Linked DNA regions of Homo sapiens: region 2 is linked to region 1. The links come from fine-mapping of genetic effects on gene expression. A gene starts in region 1. The other region holds a variant in brackets. All regions are shown on one strand. Distances are between the middles of the regions. Region 1 holds the start of TRDN (triadin). Region 2 overlaps TRDN (triadin).

The links. PIP is the estimated chance that this variant, and not a neighbour inherited with it, causes the effect.
Region 2: its variant is the best candidate, but not a certain one, in a credible set for the expression of TRDN in cerebellum (GTEx, PIP 0.59).

The regions. Positions count from the first base shown.
Region 1 is chr6:123,634,212-123,639,605 of GRCh38, forward strand. TRDN (triadin) reads right to left here and starts at 2,739. Exons shown (of 41, transcript NM_006073.4): 1 at 2,543-2,739. The coding sequence starts at 2,564. All of the region lies in intron 1 of LOC105377981 (a long non-coding RNA gene), which reads left to right.
Region 2 is chr6:123,464,227-123,469,620 of GRCh38, forward strand. It overlaps TRDN (triadin), which reads right to left. Exons shown (of 41, transcript NM_006073.4): 10 at 680-757. TRDN-AS1 (TRDN antisense RNA 1) reads left to right here. Exons shown (of 3, transcript NR_110844.1): 2 at 4,590-4,704. Among named protein-coding and RNA genes, the nearest start is that of TRDN-AS1, 27 kb to the left of the region's middle. The variant T/A (reference allele first, on the strand shown) is at 2,973.

The sequences.
Region 1 (5,394 bases):
TGGCTTGAGGCCAGTAGTTAAGTACAGCCTGGTCAACATAAGGAGGTCGTGTCTTTACAAAAATAATAATAAAAAAAAAATTAGCCAGGCATGGTGGTGCACACCTGTAGTCCTAACTACTTCTGATGCTGAGGTAGAAAGATTGCTGGAACCCAGGAGTTTGAGACTGCAGTGAGCTATGATCATGCCACTGCATTCCAATATGGGTGACAGAGAAAAATTCTGCTCTAAAAAAAATAAAATAAATAAATAAATGGTTGAAAAAAATATAGCAGATGAGATAAAATAAGACTATTTCAGGCTCAGAAAATAGCCTGTACCAAGGCACTGTACAAAGGTATACCTTTTATAAAAGACTGGAGGAAGACAATTGTAGCTAGGGCACAAAAGGTGAGAATTGCAAAGATAACATGAAACTGTGTAGTAACAAAGTGTGAAAAAACTTTGGATATCATCAAAGAATGACTGTGCTTCCTTAAAAGATGAGTTCATTTGAGTTGGCAGTCTAATTTTCATTTGAGAAATATTATTAATAAATCATTCCAGAAAACAAAAAAAAATGCATAATTGATGTTCAGATAACATAGATCCTATGAACTGTTAAGGCCCGGAAGTGGAAAATGACCATCACCCAAGAATTAGATGGTATTTCTACTTTTTAATTTTATTACTAATGTAATTATTTTTATGGGTAACTCCAGAAGGTCTTCCAAGGCCCTTTTAAACCCCCGCAGAGCAAAGGCAGAAACAAAAGCTCTATTTCATAATCAAGAATTTTCCTGTAAAAAGTCTTTTGAATCAAATGCAAGTTCTACAAAACATAATCCACAAGCAAGCCCAAGATGGTTTAGTCAACTGACCTCCTGAATCACCTGGGAGCCCAAACCCTGAACAGAGGTAGAGAAACAGAAGATTAAGACGCTCGTAGCTATCTTAATAACTTGTGCAGAGCTAAACAAGAAGTTTTTATACATAGCTTTCTTTAAGGCAAACTAAAAGCAACATGACACAGAATATCTAAGGAATAGGAAAAATGCTATTTATATTTAGTTAGCAAATTCTGAACTAAAATTGGTAAAGAGTAAACCTGATATCCTCTCACAGAAAAGAAAACACACACACACACACACACACACACACAAACAAGATTTAAAGGGGCTGGGTTTAAATGTTGGTAATGCTGGTCTTGAGCAAGTCACATAACATTTTAGTTACAGTTCCTTTTTCTGCCAAACTGAGATAATAATGCCTACTTAATTGAATTGTGTCAGTTTTAAATAAGTAAACACACATAACGTTCTGAGCAAAATACCTAACACATAGAAATCTCTCAGTAATTGTTATTAATACGAGGTGTCAGACTGAATTTCTCAGTGCAAGGTACAAATAAGGCACTTCTTATAAATATTGACTAAAAATCTCCAACAGAAATTACTGTGTGTCCATACTAATTTCTACCCTCAAAAATAAAAACAAATATTCTATTTTTCAGTTGTATTATTCAAAGCAAACCAGCACAGCATTTAACTTGGAAGTTGTTAAGAGCACCACCTGTCTGATTTTCTTACAGCTGTCAGAAGCAAATTTTAGATCCACCTCCAAAAGTTTTACCTCAACTAGAACCAGACTGTGTCTGTATTCAAAGTAATTTAGTTTTGAAGGTTTCCTTCATTCTAAGAAATACGTACATATATATATGAAGTATATATGAAATATAAATATATATAACTAGCAACCATCAAATAGAAGATATGTATTATAGTATGTAGCTTTCAGTAAAGCATTGAAACAGAAAATATTTATTGTAACATAAAGATAGAATTTACCATTTAGAGGAAAATGAAGAATGAATTTACAAAAAGAACCAGAATTCTAACACTTAATTGCTTTATTTTAAAAATCATACTGATTCACAGTAAGTTTGTGGAATTCCAGTCTTTATCTCTGAATTTCCATTAATGGTCAAATAAATACAAATTTTATGGGAACACTTATGTCTTAAATTGTATATAAATCATATATATGTATGTGTGTTTTACATACCCTAGTAGGAAAGGAAAAACAAATTTAAGGTCTCCATTTAAAAATATCATAAAGCAGAAATGCTTCAAATTACTTTTTAAGTTTAAGTAAGCATTAGTGTAATATTTTAAGTAAGCATTAGTGTAATATTTTAAGTTCATCATGGTCTCCATCCTTGAAAACTTTGTAATTTTTGCTGGATAAGATATCGGCCATCATGTTACATGACCATAGCTATTTATAGAGGTGTGAGTAACAACTGTTAACTAGTGGGGCCTTTGGTATAGCAGAGAACAGTTTCCACATGCAAAATTTAAGAGAAATCTCTTTTTGCTCCCCCAATATACAGATCTGGCAGCCTCTCAGCTCCTAAATCCACTTCTCAGATCCTGTATAGAATCATTGACCAAGGCAATTACCTTAAAGCAACATTTTAAATGGACACATCGACAGTTAATGTGGCTGTCGATTTGCATATTTTTTTTCCTTACTTGATACTATCGGAAAATGGTAGCAATACCTTCAGCAGTGATCTCAGTCATGGTGGTCGTCAAAAGTAAAAGTCAGTTGAAAAGTTCCCGTCAAGTTGCACTTTGCAGAGTATTTGGGGATTTGAGAACTCTGGTGGAGGGTTCTGTGTCAAAACCTGGGGGCTCTTCGTTTTCCTGGCTGTTTCTGCTGCTTCTTTGTTGTCCTGTTGAACTTTGCCTCTCCTCTGCAGAGTTCTCCCCCTGGAAACAACCTAAGCCCTTTCCAAGCAGCACTTGTGGCTCAGCTAGAAGTATCAGCTTCAAACAAAAATAGCCTCATCTCCCTAGGACTCTTCAGCACTTTTTTTTTTCTTTTTTGGCACTCTAGAGGAACACACACACAGACACACCAGCTCTTCAGCCCCAAAGAGAGAAAGGCAAAAAACAAACAAACAAACAAAAAAAACCAAATGAACTACAAAGTACCATCTAAGCCCCCGCAGTTTCTCTAAGATAATTACAGATCCTGGGGTCTATGTCAGAAAACATGAAATAAAGAGTTGAAAGTAATCTTATCCGTGAGAGCTCAGATTTATTCTTAGTGCTCTTAATGCTCAGAACATTCTTCTTTCCCTTATTTGGTTTGGGGAGGGTCCCAAATGTCTATCACAGGCAAAAGGGAGGGTAGTCTTGAGTAATTTTCTAGAAGTTATGTTCCTGTTGATACAAATCCACTTAGCAAGTGCAGTTATTTATATAGGGCTACACTTAAAATTGCAACTATTAAATCTTGAAGCTTTCTTTTAAAGTAGTCATATTGTAGAAGATTAATATTTTCTGAACACTGGCCAATAAGAATTATGTAATGTGAATTTATAGTGTGATACTTGAAAAACATTGGATTGATGAATTACTATCTTTTTAATTCTCTCTACTACCTTACTAAGAACTAAATACCTGCATTTATCCATGCAGTAAAAAGGAAGGGAAGGTGACATAAAGTTTAGTAGTCCACAGCCAATATTTAAGTAAAGTATTTCCTTATCTCAACTTAAAAAAAAAAGGATTATAGCAGCCACTAACAATTAACCAAATTGGCTGATTAGCATTTCACCTTCCCACTCCTAGACAGGTGTTAATGAGCAAAAAAATATTCAATAGTTGGTAGTTGGAAGCAAAAGGAGAATCGAAGGGCATTGATAATCATAAACTCTAGCCAATCTGTGAATAATCAAGGGTTGACTACACTTTTATTTTATTCTCATATTCAACCTAATAAATGCTTGTAGTTTAATCTTTTAGCTTGAACTTGATACTTTTCGTTTTCAGACCTCCCGAATTCCTATGGTACTTCATAGATCATGAAGCAAAGCCATGTTTGTTATTTTTAAAATTCAGGCTCAGAAGAGTGCTGCAACAGCTATTTCCATAGGCAATGACCTCCTCCCTGTTAGTGGTTCTGTCTTAATCTACTGCCCCCATTCCTGACACAATAGAAAGTTGCTCATTTACCAGCTGAATACATAAATTAGTAACAAATCTTAATTTACAAGGAGGAAATGATTACATGATTACATTCATGATTTTATTCAATTCCTATATCTAGGACTGGGCCTAGAGCCTTTTAACTACAAGTTTGCTATCTTCCCCAAGAAATGAGGCCTTGTTGCAGATACTATGACTTAAGGTAAAGGGGGTCACTGCAAATTAGGCCCACTAGCGGGATGAAAAGATACAAAATCCTCAAGAGCAGCTTCCCAGAGCTCTGGGTTGGTCTAAGGAGGTATCCTAAGAGAAAAGCCCTCCTTACATTGCCCCCCACAAAGAATCTCCAGTCAATAGTGCCACAGCAGTTCCAATTGTTTTGAAAAACGTAGCACTTCATATCTCCATTCATCAGTTACTTTCATAATCTTTCATTGTAGTTAACTGAAGGAATGACATCTTATGTAACTCATTAAGAATTTTCATGGGTCAGATCCTAAATAAAATTAGGCTCTGGAACAGGAAAAAACTCAACTTTTCAAACTAGTTTTACTCAATAAAAAGTTAAAATAAGACTCTAGAAAAGAAATACTAAATTCCTAGTATTGATGTTAGTCTTAAGTTCCCAATCACTATTTTCATGTTAAACATACTGGAAGGAAAAATAAAAGAAAACATATTCTAGACAATAAACATGTTTTGAAGATAATAGCTTTTTCAAACCTTTCTGTGAGATGAGTTGATGAATGTCATTAGGCAGTGAGAAATTGGCATGGTTCTCATTTTGAAAAGTTATTAGGACTCTTTCAATTTATCTGAAACTCCATTCATGAGGTATGTCTTTGAATTCCAAATGGAACCCTGCCAAGCTTTCTGAAACCAAGCAACTGACATTCTTACAAGTGTGTACACCTACTCTTCAGGGAACTCAAAGAATAAAACATTACAAACGATTCATTTGCCCTTCTTTATTTTTAAAGGGTCTTCATTTTTAAAGAGATGTTACCAGTTCATTGAGCTCTTTCAAAAGGACCCAAAAGTGATATTTCTCTCTTCTCAGCAATAGCTCCTGGAATAACTCTCACATCCCACTTCTGCACAATCAGCACAGGTAGACTTGTCATAGTTTTGCATACAGGGATATTTATAAAATTAGGACATTAATAACTGAGCTAGTCTATATAAGTAAATGATAAACTGTGAAAATTTGTTCTCCTATTAATGTCGCATTTAGGTCAAGGGGCATCTCCAACCTGATTATACTGATCATTACCCCTTGTAATATTCACTAGTTATTCTAAATACTCAAGTTAGTAGATAAAAATATTCTCCCTTAGAGAAATTTTTAAACCTTGCTCCTGTGTCTGCTATTATCATAAACACTCAATAAGACATGTATTCTATTTAGCTATGAGCA
Region 2 (5,394 bases), 170 kb before region 1:
GAATGAAGACTTAAAGAAATGACTTTAACGTTCCAGCAAAATTTATTACAAAGCTGATCTTGAGACATCATATTTTCAAGAATTATTAGTAGTATTAACCACCAGTTGTATATAGTACTTATAAACTATACATATACATAAAACAGTATTTGTGTGTGTGTGAGTGTGTGTGTATATATATATTTCAATCCTCACAATAACGCTAGGAGATCAGTGCTCTGCTTATATCATCTTAGAGATGGCAAAACTCATGAAGAGTTAATTTAAATAACTTTCCAAATTTACAAAGCTAGGAAAAGGTGGAGCTCAGATTCAAACCCAGCAAATCTGGCACCAGCCTCTTCAGAGACTAAATTGATCAAGTTGTGGTAAAACTCCCAGAGTTGCAAGGCATAGCCTTATCTATTTGTCCCTATATTTTTTTGCTTGATTCCCAAAGTGCTAGAGTGGGCATCCTTCTGGAAGCTGAGGGTCACCAATATAGAATCTTAAGGGGACATTTTTGGTTTTCTAAAAGAAGCAAATTGCAATTTTAGGAAAAGTATAGTTTAGACATACTAAAAGTATTTAAGAAAATATTGGATTTTGCTGTTTCTTTGTGACTATTTTTGTTGTTGCTGTTCCTCTACATTCTATTTTATCTACAATAGAGATCTTTAAGAAAAAAAAAAGTACTTGCCTTCAAGGGCAGGTGATGCCGGAGTGGGTCTGGAAGCTTGTTCTGTCGGTAAGGGAGGTGGAATGGCTGGGCTTTGTCCTACACAATGTAGAAGTAGGAATTGGAAAAAAAAAAGTATTAACAAATCTAATATCCACAACTAAAAAGCTAGATCTGTCCCCTACATGCATAATTCATAATACCAAGCCAAGTATAAATCATATTATTATGCAAAAAAGAAAGCTATTATTAAGGGAGATCTTTAAGAAGACACCTTCGCGGATTCAGTTATCTTCAGAGCCATTTCTGAATATATTATTTTCCATAGATGGATATGCAATGTTAAATATATCTACTGGACTTCATTAATGGAAAATGTACATGTACTCAAATTAAGCAATTTATTTTTAATATACACACTAAGTTATGGAAACTAAAATCTCAGAAGCTGAGGGGGAATCTTAATATAAAATTAATCACTATTTTTTCCATTTAACTAAAAATTCTCAAATGATATAATATAGGCAATAAAAGAAGGTTGAAATTCATAGGCCTTTGATATTGAACAGATACATTTTTCCCTACCATAATAAATGACCTGTAGTTAAGTAAATAATGAGCCAAAGAGAAAATATATTCAGTTTTATAGAACTTTGAAAGCTTCTCTCAAGTCTCTGTCTGAGCTTATTATGAACTGCAAAAAAAAAAAAAAAAAAAAAAGAGAGAGAGAGAGAAAGAAAGAAAACCCACAATCATTTCCAAGTACTTCTTTATCCCAAGTGATTTCTTTAATTAACCAATACCATCCAGGCCATGAACTCTCAACATTAGCTATCATATGATCCCATATAAATTGCTTGCAAAACATTTTATCACTACTTTTCATTCCATAAACTTCTGCTGTGTGTTTTTTATCCAGAAATCAACATGCAACATGGGCATGTGTAACTTCTAAAATCTCACTGACAACTAGATATTATCAAATGTCAGCAGACCTGCCTTACTGAAAGTTTTCCTTTTTTAGAATTCACCAAAATTAGTTATCTATGGTGTAATATGGTTTAGCAAGCAAAGTAATTAGAGTTGCACAAACACCACATTTCGGGCCTAGGCCCTCATGCCACATGGAGCTCTGTTCATCATATATGGTTCTTGTAGCTGTTACACCCATACAGGTTGATTACTGAGCATGTTTAAGTATGTATAGAAGCCAAACATACTGTTTCATAACTTACAGGCCGTATGTCTAGAAAAATATCCATTCATAATATTGTTAATTTCTTTCATTATGGAAGTAAAGATTGACTTAAACATAATATAACATGGAAGTTTATTTTTTCATTAGCAAAGAAAAAATAAGGCTGGGAACACTAAAAAGAAGGTTGATCCACATTATCTTTCTTTCCCTAGCTAACAATTACATAGTGTTTACTATGTGCCAAGAATGATCCAAATGGTTTTCCTGCATTAAGTCATTTAATCTTCACAAGCTCTTTGGGATGTGCATATTAGTCTCATTTTATAGTTTTTAAAACTGAGGTTAACCAGAGTTTAGGCTTCTCAGCTGCTAATAAGTGGAATTGGATTTCAATGCAGGTTCCCAAGTTGCAATTCTTAAAGTTCCTCTCAGATTGCCTATGCTTAACAGAAGGGTCATCTATCAGGAGTCCATGACTATAGCTGACGAGGGACAGAGGAGTGAAGCCTCTACTCTAGGTTTCTACTTTCTCGGTGGGTCAAAGGGATATATACTTGGAAAGATCTATTCCCCAACCTTGTTTGAGGGCCATTCTTGAAAAAATAATTTTAAGGTACGGTGGTATTTTGTAGCTTTGAAAATAAGCTACAAGGACAAAGAAGGAGTCAGTTAAATGACCAAACTTTTAAAATATGAGTGTCCATAAATATACATCAATTGTTTCTAAATACTAAGATAGATCGATATCTTCATAGAATGGTGCCTGTTGAGTCTCAGCTGCTTTCTACCCTGTCATATACCTCGGTGAATAGTAGTGGGTGTATAATTATAGTCTTTTATAGTCTTGAGTTATTGAGGAACTTATTATACTATATATAAAATTATTTCCCTGTAAATTTCACATAATTTACACTATTACCTATATTTAGATTTATCTGAAGGAAATATAAAGTTATTACTTTATTTAAAACAACTTTATTGCATACTTATTATATACCAGCACCAAAGAATTATTAAACCCCAACCCTGCCTTCAAGAAGTTCCCAACATACTGGCTGAAACAGACCTCTAGACAGATCATTACATGATAGTGTGTTGAAGGAAAATCGTATATAC[T/A]AAGGATATACTGCAGAAAGAGTCTTGAAAGAGAGTAGGTTAACAGCCTAAAAGGAGCCTGCCAGGTAAGGAAGGATGGGGAAGACGGAGGGATTCCAGGTGGAAGGTATGTGGTAAATTAAAAAAAAAAAAAAGCCTGGATGCCAATATATATATATTTATTAGAACACACAAACTGGTGCTTCTGCGGCATAAAGTGCAATATGCAGTTGATATCAGAAATTCTGCACAACTATAATGCTCTTTTTATTCTGCTCTCTAACATGGCTGATGGCATGGTTGTAAGGCAGTGGACACAATGGGTAACAATGGGAAAGTAGGACCACAAGCAAAAAAAAATTAAAAAAAGAAAGGAGAAGCCAGCTGGCTGCCTGTCTCCATGGTGACAGTGATACTAGCCCTGGCAGGGAATTACTAACTCAGGACAAGTTTTTGTTGTGATAGGGTGCACCAAAACAAATCAGATGGGTCATACTTGAACATGACACACGACTTTGGTCCTGACTCATATAATCAGTAATGTCAGAGAATCTTATTGAAATCACAAATCGTTTTGTTAGGTGAATGAATACATTATATAACATATATAATAATACATAATGAATTATATTAAATGTGATATTATATTTATAATACAGCTCTACAACAAAATCAGAGTTGTTTAGTATAAAGACTGCATGCTTAGGAGTCACATGGGTATTAAGCGATAGCTTCAGATCTGTCACTTAGAAGCTGTGTACATTTGAAAATCTCATAACATCTCCAAGCTTCAGTTAAGGTGTTTATAAAATGTGGATAGTTGTAGGGGTGTTATAGAGATTAAGTGATGAAGCACCCAGTGCATGGCAGATACTCAAAATATTAATTCTTTTCCCGATAATGTATTTACAATTTAAATCCCATCTAATTTCACAAGAAGATTTGAAGCTGACTTTTGAAGAAAAACAAAAACAAAGAAAATTGAACATGACAGAAATAGCAGAACTCATTTGTAGAAAAGAGGCTTATAATTTTATTAGGAATATATTCTTTTGGAATTCCTGAAGATTGTTATTCTCTGAAGGAAAGATTTAGGCTGTTGAAATTTACATTCGAACTCTAAAGGTGCCCTTCATTTTACAAGCTATTACCTGAAAATCCCTCTGACATTCAAACACAGTAAGTTGGCTTCATTTCTGTTCCTTGAGTGATTTGGGCTGGCTTATTTCCATAATACCTGAATGGTAGGTTGGCAAATTGCTAATACTTTATTGTTCTGAGTTCTTTTCCATACAAGTCAATTTGGTTGTTTTTGATTTAGTCAAATTCTTTTGGGGCTAGTGTACAGTGTGCATTCATTCTAATGATCTAAGTTACTGATGTTTTCTTTACTTTCCTAGAAATGATGAATGAGATTACTAAAAATCTTGTCAAGGTAGGAGGCTATGAGCTGAATTATGATTGCATGATGGAAAAAAGCAATTCACTACACTGAAGTTTAATCTATCTAGTTTCTTTATGAACGAGATTCCCTGATTGAAAACCATTTCTGAACAACTGAAGCCTACTCCCTCTGTCTTGTAACAAATGTTAAGGCTGTTTTTTTCTCTACCATCTAATAGAGATTTTATGTCATAGACCCTCATTGGATTTTCCTGGAAGTACGGAGAGTTACATCCAGAGAACTCTGAACATTTTGGAAGGACCCCAATCCTGCAAACAATGAATGGCAATAAATCCTGGGACTGGAAAGGTATGAGGACCTCCAAGTAACCATTGAGTTAAAATTCCTTTACATTAAAAACACACAATATATGAAATCATTACAAATCCCTGTGTCAATTTGTTCTTTCAGGTTCATAGAAGGCATTTGTAAATCTATGACTAAAAGTAAAGTGAGAAGATGTGAGTTTAATAAGGAAATGATAGTCAAGTTTATTAAAGCAATAATATTACTTATGTATTGGTATAAGTTTCCTAGACTACTTTTGTAAGATGTGGAATATTTTGAAAGTTTGGAATTTAACAAATACTAAAATTAAATGAAAAGATGGTTTTATATTTTAGGCTGAGACATGTGATTGTGCTAAGGTTGTGTGTTAATAGGGACACCTTGACCTTCATGCTTCCTTACTATCACTTGCTTCTGTCTTGTACTTTTGGACCACTTAGGGATGGAAAGAGGAGACCCTAGAGATATGGGGTGCTAACCACTCCTCCCTTTCCCAACCCCATCTATTAAAAATAATTGAATTGCCACTCATATAATAATCAGAGATGTTCAAATTTGCCTATTAAACAAAGACCTCTCCAACTGGGAATAATCTGAAGAAGTTCAGGAGTTTGTGTGAGGTGGGCAGGCACAGGATGTTTTTACTTCAAACAGACATCCTTATACCTTCCATTTGTGTGTTGCTAAATGTCACCACTGTACTTTGCGTTT